2 separate regions of the Homo sapiens genome follow, and region 2 is linked to region 1. The links come from fine-mapping of genetic effects on gene expression. A gene starts in region 1. The other region holds a variant in brackets. All regions are shown on one strand. Distances are between the middles of the regions. Region 1 holds the start of DIS3L2 (DIS3 like 3'-5' exoribonuclease 2). Region 2 overlaps DIS3L2 (DIS3 like 3'-5' exoribonuclease 2).

Region 1 (9,608 bases):
AGAAAGTAAAATCTTGTACCTCCCTCTTCAGTGAATTCCCCAACAAAACAAAGGTACAAGCATTCTGGGTTTTGTGAATTGAATGCCATTCTTTTTTTCTCTTTTAAAGCGTAAAAATTATTAGATGCCACTTGTAGCTGGTGAGATGTGTCTGTGATTAAAAGAGAAATTTCAAAACCAGAAAAAAATATGCAAGATAGAAGACAGGAGAAAGAAAAGATAAAATAGGATGATGACAGAATATAAAAATTAAGACAGATTTAAAGCTAAAAACGTGGGAATAAAAATGTAGAAAGAATAGGGCAACACTGTAAATCAGGGAATTTTCTAAAATCCACTTTAATTTCTTATTTTTTTTTTAGAGTCTTGCTCTGTCTCCCAGGCTGAAGTGCAATGGCACAATCTCAGCTCACTGCAATCTCTGCCTCCCGGGTTCAAGCATAAAATCCACTTTTAAAGTAGCATTTATGAAATTAAAAAAGAAAATAGGAAAGCACTAGAAAACAAAACAAAAAAATTAAACCTAAAAAGTTAAGCATAATATGTTGATAACATCCCAATAAAATAAAATTAACAGGTAAAATATTTAAAAAGATGACATTTTAAATAGGAACCAGAAGGTAAAAGAGAAATTAAGCTAAGACCTCAGAGTCCAAAGAAAAAGAAATATTCTCATAGAATTTAGATTTTCAAAGTTAAGGCTGGGCGTGGTGGCTTATGCCTGTAGTCCCAGTACTTTGGGAGGCTGAGGCAGGCGGATCACTAGATCAAGAGATCCAGACTATCCTGGCCAACATGGTGAAACCCTGTCTCTACTAAAAATACAAAAATTAGCTGTGCATGGTGGTGTGCACCTGTAGTCCCAGCTACTTGGGAGGCTGAAGCAGGAGAATCGCTTGAACCCAGAAGTCAGAGGTTGCAGTGAGCTGAGATCACGCCACTGCACTCCAGCCTGGAGACAGAGCAAGACTCCGTATCAAAAAAAAAAAAAAAAAATTTTAAGAGAAAAAAGAATACTATATATAGAAAAAAGAAAATGTATTTTTTAAAAACATTAAGTTTAAATTGAGAGAAGAGCAAAAATAGACTTTAATCAGACCAAAATTGTATGTTGGAATTAGTGGTCTGGATGGGTGTAGTCGTTGCAGTTGAGGACGCCAAAAACAGTAGATATGGGAATGGTGAGACACCTTTTCTATTCACCATGGCGCTCTCAGCCTTGGTGAAGGCCAGGCTCCTGGCACTTTAACATATCCCTCAACAGAACTGGGGCCTCGAAAAGGCCAGCAAATCCTGCTTCACTTTGGTTCTTGGAATGTGTTTGATTCTTAGTTTTTCTTTACCCTTTTTAATAGTCCTTTCATTATCTTTTACTGCCTTTATGATAAAATTATCATGTGAAAGGCAACTAAAATATGTTGAATGAATGTATTCCATCTTATCTCCTTGGAGTTTTGGTGTTTGATTTGGTTATTACACTTTCACACACACACACCCCACCTTTATCACCTTGACTCATCTCTGAGGTTGCAACACTTGTTATTGACCCTGAGTTGCTTGGTTGTTTGCTTCTTTCACTGTCCTTGGTGGCAGTGGAATTGGGTGGGGAGGAGACAATCCTCAGAACCTGCTCAGGGACTGGATTGTTAGGGTGTGGGCGTGGTGATGAGGGAAAGTGGAGTCAGGGATGACCCCATGGTGTCTGCTTTTGTGACTGAGTAGATGTTAGTCCAGAAGGCTGGGTTAGGGGTGGTGGTTGCTAAGAATTCAGGTCAGGCTGGGACTGAGAGGTTCTGGGGCAACCACAGCTGTGTACAAGCCCTAAACTTCCAGAAAGGCTTGGACTTCATAACAGACTGTTATGGACTAAATGTCTGTGTTCTTTCAAAGTTCATATGTTGAAACCCTAATCCCAGTGTGATGGTATTTGGAGGTGGGGGCTTTGGGAAGTACTTGGGTCATGAGAGTGGAGTTCTTACTAATGGGATTAGTGTTCTTCTAAGAAGAGGCCTGTGAGAGGCCAGCTAGCTAGCCTTCTTCCTATCACGTCACAACAGGACAAGAAGGCCATCTATGAACCAGGAAATGGTTCGCCAGAGATGGAATCTGCTAGTGCCTTGATCTTGGACTTCACAGCTTTTAGAACCACGATAAACAAATTTCTGTTGTTCATAAGCCACTCAATCTATGGTATTGTGTTATAGCACTCCTAAAGGACCAAGATAGCCCACTTGACCCATATTTTGGTGTTTCTAAATTCTTCAGCCATACATTTTGAATTTATTGGTTTTCTGACACAGATAACCTGTCACATCTGTTATGGAGAGATCTGTTGTCTTTCAGAGAATATTACTTCTATCTCTTTTCAGGGAGCTTATTGTAATACTTGTTTCAATAGGAACATACTGAAGTAATGGACTGAACGAACATATGCTAGTGGGATAAGCCTCTTGCCGCAAGTCTACTCCAGAGTGTGTTGTGATCTTCCTTTAGCCCACGTGAGGAAGCCAGGGCTCACATCACTTAAGAGGGCACAGTGCGCTGGGCGCTGTGGCTCACGCCTGTAACCCCAGCACTTTGGGAGGCCGAGGTGGGCGGATCACGAGGCCAAGAGATCGAGACCATCCTGGCCAACATGGTGAAACCCCGTCTCTACTAAAAATGCAAAAATTAGCTGGGTGTGGTGGGATGTGCCTCGTGAGCCGAGATTGCACCACTCCACTCCAGCCTGGCGACAGAGTGAGACTTCATCCCCCGACCCCCACAAAAAAAAAAGAGGGCACAGTGATATGTCCACCCTAGCCCTGTAGCCTATACAAAGGCAGGCAGCACACTTTGACAAACGACCAATCAAAATGAGATTTGTCCGTTGAACTTAAGGAAAATAATGGTCTCAGCCCTACTTCCTCTGCTCTTGTCCTTGATTCTCTATTCCTACTTTTAATTATTTTTGGTTTCCTTGGCTTCACCTCCTATTTCTAGTCCTGAAATCTCAGGTTTTCTTTTTATTTTTTTATTTTTTGAGACGGAGTCTTGCTCTGTCTCCCAGGCTGGAGTGCAGTAGCCCGATCTAGGCTCACTGCAACCTCCACCTCCCAGGTTCAAGCAGTTCTCCTGCCTCAGCCTCCCGAGTAGCTGAGGCTACAGGCCCCCACCACCATGCCTGGCTAATTTTTTGTATTTTTAGTAGAGACAGGTTTTCACCATGTTGGCCAGGCTGGTCTCGAACTCCTGACCTCAAGTGATCAGCCCGCCTTGGCCTCCCAAAGTGCTGGGATTATAGTCATGAGCCACTGCATCCGGCCACAGATTTTATTTCAATCCTTTGTTCTCTTCCTCTTCTAGGTCTTCCCCTTCCTGTCCCCACTGGCCCCTCTCCTATCCACTGAATCCCTGGATGCCTGACACCCTCTGCCTCCTGTCCTTGCTGGGTTTCCTCTACCCTCTACATTTCAAAGACAAGTTTTGCTGAAATCACAGTTTTCCTGAGGGTTCTAGAAAGGTCTGTGTGAACATTAAAAAACAAAGGTTCCTTGGGTTCATTTAGTCTTTAAGCAAACATCGATTGAGGCCTGTGTGTGTGGCAGGTACTGCAGATGCAAAGTTTTCCACCTTCATGGAGCTCATAGTTACTAAGGGAAACCCTGAATTTTCTTAGACTACTGCAACGCACTGGCCGGGTGCGGTGACTCACACCTGTAATCCCAGCACTTTGGGACAAGATGGGCGGAAGAGTGAGACCATCCTGGCTAACACGGTGAAACCCCGTCTCTACTAAAAATACAAAAATTAGCCGAGAGTGGTGGCACGCGCCTGTAGTCCCAGCTACTCGGGACTGAGGCAGGAGAACTGCTTGAACCCAGGAGGCGGAGGTTGCAGTGAGCCGAGATCGCACCATTGCACTCCAGCCTGGGCGACAGAGCGATAGTCCGTCTCAAAAAAAAAAAAAAAAAAAAAAAGAGAAATATAGGCACAATTTAATGCATCTCTTTTCCTTTTTCAATATGGAGCATACGGTGGTTCAAGCATCTGTCCACATTGTATTCCCGAAGTTTGATCCCTACCCTGCCCTGCCCTCCCGTCTTTCCTTCCCTCTCTCTTTTTTTTTTTCTGGAGTGCAATGGTGCGATCTCGGCTCACTGCAACCTCCGCCTCCGGGGTTAAAGCGATTCACCAGCCTCAGCCTCCTGAGTAGCTGGGATTACAGGCATGTGCCACCACGTCTGGCTAATTTATTATTTTTAATAGGGACGGGGTTTCTCCATGTTGATCAGGCTGGTCTCGAACTCCCGACCTCAGGTGATCCGCCCGCCTCGGCCTCCCAAAGGGAAGTTTGATTTTTCTATGGTCACCAATGGACACTTGATCTCCATAGCTTGAGAATGGCGGCCATCCCCTCACTGGCATTCTTTCCTCTTGTGCTCTCCCGAACGTTCTGGCTGCTCTTTGGATTTCCTTTTCCTTTGCTCACATCTACAATATTGGTGTTTCCTAGGTCCCGTACTTAACGATTGTTTCCTCTCAACACGCTTCCCTGGGCGGGCTGAACTGTCGGGGGCTTTCTCGGCTGCGCTTCCTCTCTCACCTGAAACCCTCTTCCCAACCCTTTATACTAGGTCGACGTCTCCAACATCAGCTGCTCCCCACCCGTGTCTGGGTGGGCCCCTTGGGCAGGCTCCCCTAGTCTCCTTTCCTTCGATCATCCCCACGTGCAGGACGTCATCTGCTTGCTCTGCCATCAGCCTCACATCCTGAGGGCAGGGACCATGCGGGGGTTGTCCATCTCTGTATCCCCAGTGCCAGCACTGCACCTCGCCCCAAGCAGTTGTCCAATAAATGAGCAGTGAGTAAATGAAAGAATGAGCAAAGCCTTGTAACAGGAAAGGGGCCGGCGGCGTCTGCCGTGCAAGACCTGGCCCAGTGGAGCAGAGCCTGGAGGTTCAGGAGCCGGGTCTGGAAGGCTCCTTCCGGTGGAAGAGGGGCCCGGAGCCAGCCGGCGCCTGGCACAAGGCGTCTCAGAGGCCGCCCACTGGGAGCCAACCGTTGCAGCCAGTTGTCCCCGCGAGCGAGGCCGGAGAAGGCGCGGCGGCCCCTGGCCTGGCCATTTCGCCCTTGTCGCAGCTGAACCGCCGACTACGAGCTCCTGCACCGCGCACACACCCCGCGCGCTTCGCTCTCGGCCTCGCCCGGCCACCGTCGCTCTCTAGAACGCCGCGCCCGTGACCCGGAAGAGCATTCTCCTTAGCAACTGCGGGACTGCGGCGGCGCCGGCCTCCGGGGAGAAACGGTGAGGCCCTCACTCGCCTGCCCCCTGCACCGCCTAGTGCTGCACGACCCCCTCGGGACCGACCCGGGGTCTGGCCTCTGGGGGGCTCCGCGGCGCTTCGCCCGGCACCTGTGGTGGCGGCCCGGGACGAGCGTCTTCCGCCTCTGGCGTTGCTCCCCGGCCCACGCGTCTTCCCTGTCCCGCATCTCCCTCAATGTCCCCAGCTCCCCACTCTCCGCTCCTGACCGACCCGGCCTCCCAGGCCGCGCTTATAGCGCCGGGGCCCTTGTAGCCTAGGATGGCGTGAGGGGAGCGAGACCAGAATTAGAGCCTGTTGCTGTAGAGAGGACGCCTCCCGAGGCTCGGGTCACCTGTGGACGCGTTCTCTAGGGTCTTGATCGAGATGTTCAGGACTGGCAGGGATGGGGAGCCTCGGGAATCTTGAAGGGCAGCCGCTTAATTATAACATGTCCTTGACGTTTGCGCTTTCCACAGTGATACACTTTATCTCCTTTATTGATCATAGAGAGTTTTTTTTTTTAATAAACTTTTAGATATGGGGGATACGCATGCAGGTTAGTCACATGGGTATATTGCACCCAGGTATTGAGCATAGAACCCAGTAGGTAGTTTTTCAACCCACATCCCCCATCTCTCCCCTCCTTCCAGTAGTCTACAGTGTCTACCGTTACCTTTTTTTTTTTTTTTTGAGACGGAGTCTCATTCTGTCGCCCAGGCTGGAGTGCAGTGGCGCGATTCGGCTCACTGCAAGCTCCGCCTCCTGGGTTCATGCCATTCTTCTGCCTCAGCCTCCCGAGTAGCTGGGACTACAGGCGCCCGCCACCCCGCCCGGCTAATTTTTTTGTATTTTTAGTAGAGACGGGGTTTCACCATGTTAGTCAGGATGGTCTCGATCTCTTGACCTCGTGATCCGCCCGCCTTGGCCTCCCAAAGTGCTAGGATTACAGGCGTGAGCCACCGCACCCGGCCGACTGTTCCCATGTTTATGTCCATGTGCGCTCAATGTTTCTACTCCCACTTGTAAGTGTGCTCAATGTTTAGCTCCCACTTATAAGTGAGAACGTGTGGTGTTTAGTTTTCTGTTCTTGTGCTAATTCGTTTAGGATTATGGCCTCCAGCTCCATCTGTGCTGCTGTAAAGGACATGATATCTTCCTTTTTTGTGGCTGCATAGTATTCCATCCTGTACATCCACATTTTTTTTTTCCAGTCCACCATTGATGGTCACCTAGGTTGATTCCGTGTGTTTGCTATTGTGAATAGCTCAGCCGTGAACATACAACTGCATATGTCTTTTTGGTATAATGGTCTGTTTTCCTTTGGTTATATACCCAACAGTGGGATTGCTGGGTGAAATGGTGGCTCTTTAAGTTCTTTGAGAAATCTCCAAACTGCTTTCCACAGTGGCTGAACTAATTTACATTCCCACCAACAGTAGTTTAAATGTTCCCTTTCCAAGGGAGCCTAATGAGGATCTGTTGTTTTTTGACTTTTTGATAATAGCCATTCTGACTGGTGTGAGATGGTATTTCATTGTGGTTTTGATTGGCATTTCTCTGATAATTAGTCATGATCATGTTTTCCATATATTTGTTGGCTGCTTGTATGTCGTGGTTTTTTCTTTTTGTATTTCTTCTGAGAAGTGTTCATGTCCTTTGGCCATTTTTAAAAATGGGCTTATTTGTTTTTTGCTTGTTGATTTAAGTTCCATAGGGATTCTGGATATTGGACCTTTGTCAGATGCATAGTTTGTGAATATTCTCGCCCATTTTGTAGGTTGTCTGTTTAATCTGTTGATAATTTCTTTTGCTGTGCAGAAGCTCTAGTTTAATTAGTTCCAACTTGTCAATTTTTGTTTTTGCTGCAGTTGCTTATGGGGACTTAGCCAAAAATTTGCCAAGGTCAGTGTCAAGAAGTGTATTTCCTGGGTTTTCTTCTAGGATTTTTATAGCTTGAGGTCTTTTATTTTATTTTGAGACAGGGTCTCACTGTCACCCAGGCTGGAGTGCAGTAGCGTGACTGCAGCTCACTGCAGCCTCGATTTCCCAGGCTCAAGTGATCCTCCCACCTCAGCCTCCCGAGTAGCTGAGACTACAGGTGCGCACTACCACGTTCGGCTAATTTTTGTATTTTTTATGGAGATGTGGTTTTTACCATGTTGTCAGGCTGGTCTCTGACTCCTAGGCTCAAAAGATCTGCCTGCCTCAGTTGCCCAAAGTGCTGGAATTACAGGCATGAGCTACTGTGCCTGACTGAGGTCTTTGCATTTAAATCTTTAACCCATTATGTATATCATGAAATATATACAGTTTTATATCTTCTGCATGTGGCTAGTTAGTTATCCCAGCACCATTTATTGAATAGGGAGTCCCTTCTCCATTTGTTTTTTGTCAGTTTGTTGAAGATCATATGGTTGTAGGTGTGTGGCTTTATTTCTGAGTTTTCTGTTCTGTTCCATTGTTCTATAGGTGTGAGACTCATTTAATTGTACATCTTGAACTGATCCTTTTCTGGGGAATTTGCTTCCCAGTTGTGAGTGAGGTGTGGTTAGTATATTCTGTAGCTTAGATTTTTGTGCTTACAAGTTTTCTGCAGAAGGAAATCTTCCCGGGACTGACTAGGTTTGAGGTTTGAGAAATATTTCAAGTGAAATTTGCTACATTGAAGAAAGTAGGAGCAGGTGTTGTTAATAGCATGGACTTACACTTCAGAAGACACTATGGCACTGGAAAACCTCCCCTGATTTGAGTTTGAATGAGCTGTACTAAGAAAACTGTAAGCCTTATTTGAACATGGTTGGATAACGACTTTATTTTTAATCTGATGATGATGGAGCTAAAACTGAGGCGTGTGAACCGTTTTTGGAAATGACATTATTTGGGAATAAAATGTGGGAGTTTCTATATCAAAATTCATTTAAAACTATAATTTCATTCCAATTTAATAACTTTATTAAGCATCTACAGCATTATACACTTTAAAGGATATAAAAGAAAAGTGCACACATGAAATTATTAGGAAAGCAATGAAATGGACATTTGTTTAAATGCAAAATATGTGGTACGGATATTAAGTGCTGTAGTAGGTCAGAGGGTGGAGAAATCATTTCTGGATTAAATGGGACTTGATTTGTCTCTAAAGTACAGATATAATTTGTATTTGTATTGGAGAGGACAGGAAGTCCTAATTCCTTTCCTTATATTCTTAAGAGTTTGGGAAATAGTTCCATGTGGCATTTCGAAGTTCTTATTTAATGCTTTCAGGTCACTTGATTTGTGACCTATTTCTTTCAAATAGTCTTAGTACAAATCTATATGACATTTTTCCTGTTTGACATCTAAAATAGTGAAGTTACTAGCTGAGGGCTTTGCCACTTAGAGTTTCTTTGCTTCTGCATTTGGTGTTAGGTTTATATGAAACACCACAGTTTAAGTAGTTACTGTTTCATTCATGCTCAAGAGTCTTGTGAAATGTTGCTCTTTTTTATTTGACTGGTATTTCTGAAGTGCTTCCTATGTAGCAGCGGTAGTATCAGGAATTACCAAAAACAACTGTTACTTAGCAACCAGTAGGTATGCTTTACATAAGGAGAGTGTGTGTGTTTAGCCTATCAGCCTTTGATGCTCAGCATTTGCCTTGAGACATTGAAGGCCAGAGCAATTTATGTAGACATCTGAATTGACTTTTTTTTTTTTTTTGAGTTTAATGTTTAATAAGGGGACTCAGTTGCTTTGGGCATCCACCAAAGATACATTTGTGAAGATGATCAAACTTTTAAGTCCTCTTAAAAGATGTTTTGTTGCTTTCTTATAGACTTAGTGTTCATTTATTCACTTAATCATCAAATATAATATTTGAGTGCTTACTTGGTACCAGGCACTATGCTTGGCCTTGGAGATGGGGGAGAGTGAATGCACATATGATCTCTGTCCTCAGCAGATGATACTCAAATAATCACACAAATGCAAAACTATGGCTGTGACAAGTGTTTTAGAGAAATCACTGAAATGACATTTTAACTGATGTCTACAAGATGCACAGGAAGAGAACAGTGCTCTAATCAAAGCAGACCCTCTGATGCCACGTCCATGTTGCCCTGGCTGGAGTGCAGTGGTGAGATCACGGCTTACTGTGGCCTCGACCTTCTGGGCTCAGGCGATCCTCCTGCTTCAACCTCCCGAAGTTCTGGGATTATAGATGTAAGCCACCATGCCCAGCCTGTCCTTTTATTTTATCCTTCAAAAAGTTTTTGTTTTACAGAAGGAGTTTCATGAAATGCTATTGAGCATGAGTAAAAGTAAAACTGGGCCTGGAATGAGTGG
Region 2 (9,608 bases), 280 kb after region 1:
TGGGGGTGAAAGAGTTGAGAAGCTGTAGGAAGACACAGAAGGGGATTGAGCCTGGTCTAGGTCATCAGGGCAGGCCTGCCGGAGGAAGTGACTTTAGGTGGTAGTTTGAAGGACCAGTGGGGGTTGCCAGGAAGAGGAATAGAGAGAACCGCGGGGAGACCCCTGGGTGTGAGCATGGGAGCCCCATCACAGTGTCTTGGGGGTGTAACTGTCATTTAAGGGATAAGGGCCAGGAAAGTCAAAACATGCACAGAGCAGACCCACATGATGAGCAGTTGGGTTGGTATCAGCTTCTTGTGAAGTGGTGATAGAGGATGGTGTGCAGGGGAGGAGTGGAAGAAACAAGACCATGGGATGGGAGGGGTGGGCAAAAGCCAGGCCAGGCAGGCCACAGAAGCCAGGTCTGGGCTGCGTGCTCAGGGCAGCAGGGCCTCTGGAGGGTGTAGATGGTGAGGCGACAGGCAGATTTGTGTTTGGAAAGGGCACTGTCTTCACTATGGAAAATCAGTTTGAGAAATGGCAGGGAGAGCAATAGGAGGTTGTTAGATATTTCTTAGAAGAAGCCATGGTGGTCTTGGCCAAGGTGACAGTGGTGGGAAGGAAGACATATGGGCAGATGTGAGAGACGTATGGAAGGTAGAGTCAGAATGATTGATCGACACAGGCCTGAGAAAGTCCCAGGTTTCTTTTTGGTTTAGGCAAGCATGGGTATCACTTTTGGTTTAGTGGAGGTGATCCCACTTCCTGGGACAGGAAACACAGGGAGAGAAATGGTTTTGCTGCCAGTAGGGGCTTATGGAGGTATGAGTGTGATGTGACCGTGGGACAGCTGAGTGACAATTCTCAGTAGACTTTGTATACATCAATCTGAAGCTCAGAGAAGTCTAGGCTGGTGATATACAATTAGAAGACCAAAGCACAGAAATGAGGTTTGAATCCCTGGAAGTAGATGAGACAATCCAGAGAGAAGGGGTAGAATTAGAAGAGAAGGCAGCCTGGGGCAGAGCACGGAGGCTTGGCACGCCACACTTAAGGGACACGGAGAGGCAGAGAAACTTGAAGAGGAGCAGACATGGAGCTTAGACACCCAGAGTGGGGCCCAGAGCTAAGGAGGAGTGTCTCAAGGTGTTGGGGTGGGGAGGGCACAGAATCACCAGGCTTCAGATGCTGCTATAAGGTCAGGCCTACAAAGGTTTGGATTCAGTGCACAGAGGTTATTAGTGACCTGGACAAAGCAGTTATTTTTTGCTGATGAAGTATATTAAAAGGCTTTCCAGGCATCACATGTGCCTTAGTCCATTCAGGCTGCTATAACAGAATACTGTAGACTAGGTGGCATAAAGAACTAAAACAACGGATTTATTCCTCACAGTCCTTGAGGCTGGGAAGTCCAAGATCAAGATGCTGGCAGATCCAGTGTCTAGTGACGGCCCACTTCCTGGTTCATGGAACAGCACCTTCTCATTGCGTCCTTACATAGTAGAAAGAATGAGAGAGCTGTCTGGGGTCCCTTTTATAAGGCACTAATCCTATTTGTGAGGGATCTACCTCTGAGGCCTGATAACCTCCCAGAGGTCTGCCTCCTGATGCCATCACATTGGGGATTGAATTTCAACCTGTGAATTGGCAGGGAGTGGGGAGACTGGGGGGAGCAAATATCTATCACAACACATAATATTGTTTTATGTGAGGAGTGTCCTGCTGATGTCAAGAAGAGCCTCTGTCACCACTGTGACCACTGTCCAGTCTCAGCAATGGGTAAAAGTGAATGAAGTGACCCAAGTCTGGAAGGCCTTATCTCACTGCTGGTAAGGGAAGGCCCCACCTATAGTAGGTGGCCACCCTGGTTGTGCTCATTCCTGGCACAGGCCTCTTGAGTCGTTCAGACAGTCTCTGTACTACCAGCTAAAAATGACTGTAAGCTAGAAATTTAGGAGTGGTTTAGATTTTAAAGAGCTTGTTCATCTAATTAAATAGAACTGGAGTTAATGGCTTAGTGGTTGTTCTATAATCAGGCCCTGCTACAAGTGGTTAAGGAGACTGACAACGGGAACCAAAAGAGCCTGCAGGGACAGGAGTGAACATGGCTGGAAAGAGTCTCTGCCAGGACTTCTGAATCCAGAGCTGAGAATGTGGCTTCCTTGGAGTTATGAGAGATAGGGAGGGATTTTGAGCTGTGGCCCACTGAGATGAAAAATTGGGTTGTATCATCTTGTTCTGGAGTTGCAGTGACAGTTTATGGCGAGGGGTAATAAAAGGAGCAAAGGATCTGAACCCAACCTGGTTTTGAATCTGGGATTTCTCACTTTTTAGCCAAGTAACTGGAAAAGTGACTGAAAAACTCTCTGCATCTCAGATAATTCATCTGTGCAAAACGATATGCATAGCTGTAGTCAAAGTTAGCTTGTGTGTGAAGCCCCTAGCACAGAGGAGACATTTAATAAATGTTCACTCCTGCTATCTGTATTATTATTGTTATTATTTTTCTTCTTCTTGAGACGGAGTCTCACTCTTGCTCAGGGTGGAGTGCAGTGGTGTGATCTTGGCTCACTGCAACCTCCACCTCCCGGGTTCGAGTGATTCTCCTGCCTCAGCCTCCCAAGTAGCTGGGACTACAGGCATGCGCCACCACACTTGGCTAATTTTTGTATTTTTTAGTAGAGATGGGGTTTCACCCATGTTGGCCAGGCTGGTCTTGAACTCCTGACTTCAGGTGATCCGCCAACCTCAGCCTCCCAAAGTGCTGGGATTACAGGTCTTTATTATTTTTATGATCATCATAGTCTATGTTACATTTATGTAGTTGTTATGGATCACAAAACACTTTCAGATGTCCTCACTGATTGCAGTTCAGCTTACTGCCATATACTTGAGTTATCACACGGGTGTATGTATGAGCCCCATTAGACCGAGAGCTCCTTAAATGGATGGGTCCCCACTCACAGATGTCTAGTGCGGGCATAAACTAGAGGATCCATGTGAGGAAGCACTTCCCCTACCAGAGCTCTTCAGAAAGAGAGCAGGTGGCTTCAAGAAGATGTCAGCTTCCCACTCTTGAGGATATAGCAGGGGCCACCTGGCAGGGACACTGTGGGGAAGTGGCTGCACTGGTTGGAAGGCTGGCTTCAAAGAGATGGTTTCTGAATCCCGCTTTATAATCTATGTTTTAATTGGATGAAGCAGTTCTCATGTCCCGTCAGGTTCATTCAAAGGAGTGTTTGTACTCATCTAAGTTTGTGGACCCTAGGCAAAGTGAGCCAGGCCCGGCTGCCCGGGGGATCCTTCCTCTCTCTGCTCTAAATGCTCTTTAAACACACAGGCTCACCTACTCCCTGGCAGATGAAAGTTTTAAATTTAAAAATATTTTAAAAGAATGCTTTCATATGAAAGCCAGTATCTTTTAAAATATCAAATTTGTCTTAAACATTTTGGCAGCATATGCCATGTGACTTTTGGATTTATAGTTTCTCTTTCATAGAATAAAAAGTTCAGTGCCACCACCTCAAGAGTTCTGCAAGTTCACATTATGTAAACATATATAATAAAATATTTACTTAGGGTTTCCATAAAAAAGATCCAAAGCAGAGAATAAGAGAGCTTCTCTTTGCTGGTTTCAGAGGCTCTGCTGGGAATTCTGAATGAAATTTAAGCCTCTTGAATATGTTTTGATTGGCCTTCTTCATATTTTATCTCCTGTAATGAACTCTTTGTCAGTTTGTCAATTTTGACTAAGGACAGAAAGTTCATGTGCAGTAACACAGAGACTGAATTTAAAATTATGGTTTATATCATGATGTAATAATCCTCTCTTTTGTCCTTCAGTCAATATTTACCTGTTAGGCCAATATATTATAATGCTGACTTCAAAAGAAGACACTTTATTTTACCTTCTCTAAGTGTTGGTTTTAGATACTTGAAATATCAAAACTGGAAGTTGAGCCATCTGAGACTCTTGGCTGAATTCACATAAAGTTCAGTTCCTCGATCGCAGGGCAGGTTTCACTGCTCCCAGTGACCCAGCGACACAGCTGCGTGCCTGTCAGAATGAGGCAGCTAAGCTTGGAGTCATGCTGGTTCCTCTCAGCTTTCCAGACAGCCCTCTCCTCTGTGGGAAACAGATCTGTTATGTTACCCCATAGCAGCCAGGATCTCTTAAGTGGACTTAAGTATTCCTTTATGTATTACAGCTACAGGATTGGGCGGAAAAACCTGAAGAATGCCCTGTAGGAAGGTGGTCTCTGAGTGTCACACCAGATGAAGAATAGGGAATCTTAAATTCTTTTCCTTGCCTGAACCCCTTTTTTCAAGCATCCCACGTTTAAGCATTTTTCCATTTTAAAAACTGAGGGAAGAATTATCCCCCAGTGAAGGAGTAGGAGGATAATAAGTAGCTACACAGTTTGCAGATAAAATGTGTGATACCTTAGGACTGATCATTCAGGTTACCAAAAGAGCAGATGGTACTGTGTTAATAAGTTCTTCTAAGCCAACTTGGGTATGAGTCAAGACTCTGTCAGTGAGTCATAATG[G/A]AAAGGGAATTGATCCACTCATTAACTGCCAAGTCCACAGGTAGACTAGTTTCAGGCTCAGCTGGATCCTGAAGTTCAAATGAGGTCATAATTCTTCTTTTCTTTCTTAGACTATTATTTTCTGTATTGGCATGATTATGTAGCATAGATGTTTCCTGGCAGCTCCAGGTTTATGTGGTCCTTAGTGCCTAGGATCCCAGGAGAGAGACCCTCTTTCCTGAAGTTCATATCATTTATCAATACAACAAGTTGTATTGTTCAACTGAAGCAAATTCAGCACTATGCTTGTATCTTCCATGTGCTTCTCTCTGCCCATTGTATATCTTTAAACTGTATACTTATTTTATTTTATTATTTTATTTTTTCGAGACAAAGCCTTGCTCTGTTGCCCAGGCTGAAGTGCAGTGGCACAATCTCAGCTCACTACAACCTCTGCCTCCAAGGTTCAAGCAGTTCTCCTGCCTCAGCCCCCTGAGTAGCTGGGACTACAGGTGTGTGCCACCACACCTGGCTAATTTTTATTTTTAGTAGAGATGGGGTTTTGCCATGTTGGCCAGGCTGGTCTCAAACTCCTGGCCTCAAGTGATCCGCCAGCCTTGACCTCCCAAAGTGCTGGGATTACAGGCATGAGCCACCGTGCCCAGCCTATATACTTATTTTACATGTATACTCTTTTTTTGTAATTGGTTCATTTTCTGTATTTTCATACACACATACATGTATATGTATGTACGTATGTATATACTCTTGTATGTATGTGTATATTTTTATTTTCACATACACTATATTTGATAGGTGATTTACAGTATGTTCAAGAATAAATCTTAAGTTTATAACCTAACTACCCTCCCTCATTTAAGGTACAGTTCTAACAGCCTTGGTCACCTGACCAACTCTCTGGTAAACCTGGTAGGGAGGGCAGGGCCTATTAAAAGACAGCTCCACCAGGAAGGGAAGGAGCAGTTCTAAAAGGAAAAAGAAAGTGGGTCCTTTACCAGAGGGAAAAGACAGACCGACTGTTGATTCATTCATTCAACAAGTACTTCTTGAGGACCTATTATGTGCCAGGTACTCTTCCAGGCCTTGGGTAACAGTGAACATTACACAAAAGGCCTTATTTGCTGGAGCTTACATGGTAGGGAGAGAGACAGATAACAAACACACAAGCCGATAGAGATATGCCGTGATATCTGGTAGTGATGAGAGCTCTGAAGAAAGACCACGGTAAGCCTCAACAGGTGTGGAGTACGTGCTTTACAGTGCAGATGGAGGAAATGGTTGGGGGCGGGGTGGTGGGGAGTTGGAGGAGACAGACAGGTGGAGGAAATGGTGGGAGGGGGGTAGAGGAACCTCTTCTTGTTTGGGGATTCTCTTTCAGTTGACCCAAATAAAGTAAGGAAGATTTTGATAGGCAGATCCTGTTAAGACTATCCCAAGCATAGGAAAAAGTATGAGCCAAGCCAACATCTAAATGGCTTGAGGGAAGATCTGTTCAGGAAATGGAAAGAGGTTTCCCATGACAGCTACATACAGAGCATGTGAAGGATGGGGCTGAGGTTGCTTGGGGTGTGACCCTGTAAGGACATGAATAACAGGCTAAGAGTACCTTTCCCAGACCCACATTTAGAAAGATCACAGCAAAGTGTGGAGGGCCAGGTGAGGGGGGCACAGAGGCGAGGTAGGGCAGCCAGGTGTGGGCTAAATAGGGCAATGGCCAGAGGGAATGGGAAGGAAGGGCAGAGCTTTCAGAGGCTTCATCTGTAGGATTTGGGGATTAATTCACTTCTAGTGACCTAAAAGGATTTGTTCATCACCCAGAATGAGCCATATCTTCTTATGTTTACTCAAAGATAAGAAGCCTTTAGAAATGGGAAACATCTTGGGAAAGTGGTTAATCTTGTTTATTCACAAGAACAATTTCATCATCTTTTGCTATACAATGAGGAAAGTGACAGTAGTGCGGGTCACAGAGGGAGGTGGCCAAGGAAGGAAGCAAGCAAGACTAGATGTGTCACCTAACTGCAGGTCCTGTGGCCTCTGGGAGTGACATACATTCTAGGAAAGGACTCCTGGGAGAGAATGCTGTGGCCTTCCACGCCAGCCTGATAGTCCTTCTCGTGCATTTACAGGCAACTTCAAAGTGGGAGTTCACATTGCTGACGTGAGTTACTTTGTTCCGGAGGGATCTGATCTGGATAAAGTGGCTGCCGAGAGGGCTACAAGCGTCTACTTGGTTCAAAAGGTAAAAATCCATCTCTAGTTTCTTTTTTCTTGCTTTGTTTATTTGTTTGTTTCCCTGGAAGAGTGTGTGCTCTCTGTTATTACATGTTCTCCGGAAAGAGAAGCCAAAGGAAGACACAGGTGTTCATCTGAGGCCTCATCCCAGAGTGGCCCTGCTATATAAGTAACTGACAGATACTCAGCTTCAGAAAGAAAGGAGGCAAAATACCTGCTTTCAAACGATTGTTCTAAAGCAGGGCTCGGCAAACTCAGCCCACACTAGCGACTAGTTTTTGTAAGGTTTTATTGGAACTCAGGCACATGCATTTGTTCATGTATTGTGGCTGCTTTCACACTACTTCAGCAGAGTGGCATGACGATTTCCTATTACTGTAAGCCCTTTAAGGAAATGTTTTCAACCCCTGTTCTAAAAGGTGGGAGCCAATCTGGTCCTGACCTGCCCATTACAAGATAGCTATGGGAGTCTCCGAGATGGAAAAGCGAAGGGAGATAAGGAGGAGCCTGAGCTTTTCCCTCTCATCCTGACTGCACCACTCTTGGTTAGTTACTAAGTGTCTACAGACCTCCCTAGACTCATCTGTGAAATGAAGGGACTGGACAGATTCATCTCAAAACATCCCTTCCATTCTGTGTACTTGGACCTGGCACATTCAATAGGTAACCATGAGAATCCATTCCTTTAACACATATATATTGAGCACCAATTATCTGATGGTCACTGCAGTAGGCCTCAGAGAAAGGGGTTAATAAGAGACCAAGCATGAGTAAGTTCTGCCCTCCACACTGTGGTTCATGAATTCTGCCAGGTTTCTTTCTCTTCTTTCCCTTCTCTGATCCTCTGCTCATTTGCTCATCTTCCTTCTTCGGCCATATCTGGACTTCCACTTCCTTTCTAGCTTTTTAAAATTTGGCAGTCCAGTTTGGGATTCTGCCTATACTAGCTTGAGCCTTCCTGCCTCCCAAGCCCATGCCCTAGGACATGATTCTGGTATTTGCTCATTGACTGCCCTAAGGTCAGAGGAATATCCCCACCATCCACCCTAGAATGCAGCACCACAGGTGCATTCTAGAATTTCTGGGCTCCACTTCTAGCAAAGTGCCTACTTGATGTTCACAAAGGTATTGGCACTTCTGGAGCAAAAGCTATCCAGGAAAGCCCAAAAGTTTCTAGGATTTCTGGTATTTACCAAGTGTTACTGAGAGTTCCTCTCATGTTTTCAACTTGTCCACCCTGAAAACTAACCTCTCAAAAGGGAAGAGACCAGTCTAGGCTTTGAGTGCAGCCATATCCTCTAGGGGCTGAAGATCCTGTTGCCTGTGGCCCAAGTTTAGTTCCCCCAGTGTAGCTGAGCTTATCAGTTGACAGTGATGTCTTCCACCCCATGGTGGAAATCACCTTGTCTGAGACCCTTTGCTCCTGCTACAAAGGGAGCTAGCCTAGATGGGCTCTCTTGTCCCAAAGGAAAGCCAGAGCTGTTATCTGCCATAGCCGCCTTCAATATGTGGAGGCCCTACCTAGGAAGACCTGGCACCTCCTCTCCCCTGCCCCAGGACAGTACTCTCTGGATCACTGAAACCTAGAATATTTGAGCAAAACCCTAGCTCCACCTGCTCCAGGAGACTTGTACAGCCGATTTCTTCAGAAGTACAGCTTTGCCTACCATTCACATTAGGTGATCAGAACCACCATGTACGTGTTTTCTGCCATCCCAGAAGTGAGAATAGTGAATAGAGAGGAAGACAGAGTTGATCAGAGCCAGGAAATTCTGAGTCAGAAGCTGTGTGATCATCAAAACCCCATTCCAGGTAACTGTGTCATGGGCAATAGGTAATCTCAATGCACAGTGATGCCTGAAAGACCCAGCACCTTCAGTGACCAATTAGTGAGAATAGTTAGCTGTGTCCTCATCTGAGCAGGGGGAATTCCGTACCAGACTTTGCTTGTGTCAAACGTACTGTGTCCCTCCCTGACCTCTGTGGCTGGCCTAAGCCTAAATGCAATGTTTAAGAACTTCTCTTTGCCCCCCGACCCCTCACAATGTCTATGACACCTGAGTCCAAGCTCTGAGCAGGTATAGGCAGCTTAAGAGAATGCAGTGCAAACTTCTGACCCACAAGTATCTCTCTTGAGTACATGGGGCTTCCTCCCTGACCCCCATGGCCATGAAGCCACGGCCATGCACTAGCTGCTGCGCTCTCCTTTTATAACCAGGAATTACTTTTCAAAATCAGAAAATGAAAAAATCAAATTGGGTTAAGTAATTAAGCATGTTTCCTTTTCTGTTTCCTTTGGTTTTGTGTTTGTCACAGTTCTAGAATTTCTCTGTGGGACTACAGAGTTGGGGCTCTGCTGCTGAGTTGTGAAAGTGGGGAGCTGGGTGGAGGAAGGGCCCGCACGCCTCTGCTGCCCGGCACTGCCTCCAGCTTGGCAGGCACAAGTGGCGCCGGCCCGCAACCTTGGACAGCAGCAGCTGTGCGCTCTGATTCCTTTGAACCGCTGCTCTGACCTTTCTTCCTACTCGGTTTTGTTTCTTAAAGGACTGTGTCCAGGAACTTTTCTGCTGTTTTCACTTTACTTTGCCTATAAAGGTCTTCTGAAAAGCTGGATGAGCTGTGTTTCCGCCCTCCAGATTCTCTGCTTTCTCACTTGGCACAATCATTTCTCCCAGCTTCATCACACAGGGGAAGGGGGGCTGGGGTTCCAGTTCATTTCCCATCTATAGGGAATGTGGCACTGATTTCATTCAGATCTGTAAGTGACTGATGCCAGAACTGCAATCTTAGCTCCTTATCTAAACTCTAATTGGGGGATTAACCCATGGAGTAGGACAGTATACA

Evidence for each region.
Region 2: its variant is fine-mapped to the expression of DIS3L2 in lung (TOPMed, PIP 0.95).

The regions. Positions count from the first base shown.
Region 1 is chr2:231,956,479-231,966,086 of GRCh38, forward strand. It overlaps DIS3L2 (DIS3 like 3'-5' exoribonuclease 2), which reads left to right and starts at 5,235. Exons shown (of 21, transcript NM_152383.5): 1 at 5,235-5,287. RefSeq lists an enhancer at 5,113-5,202 and a silencer at 5,333-5,492.
Region 2 is chr2:232,231,875-232,241,482 of GRCh38, forward strand. DIS3L2 (DIS3 like 3'-5' exoribonuclease 2) reads left to right here. Exons shown (of 21, transcript NM_152383.5): 11 at 6,659-6,771. Among named protein-coding and RNA genes, the nearest start is that of MIR562, 64 kb to the left of the region's middle. RefSeq lists an enhancer at 1-90. The variant G/A (reference allele first, on the strand shown) is at 4,530.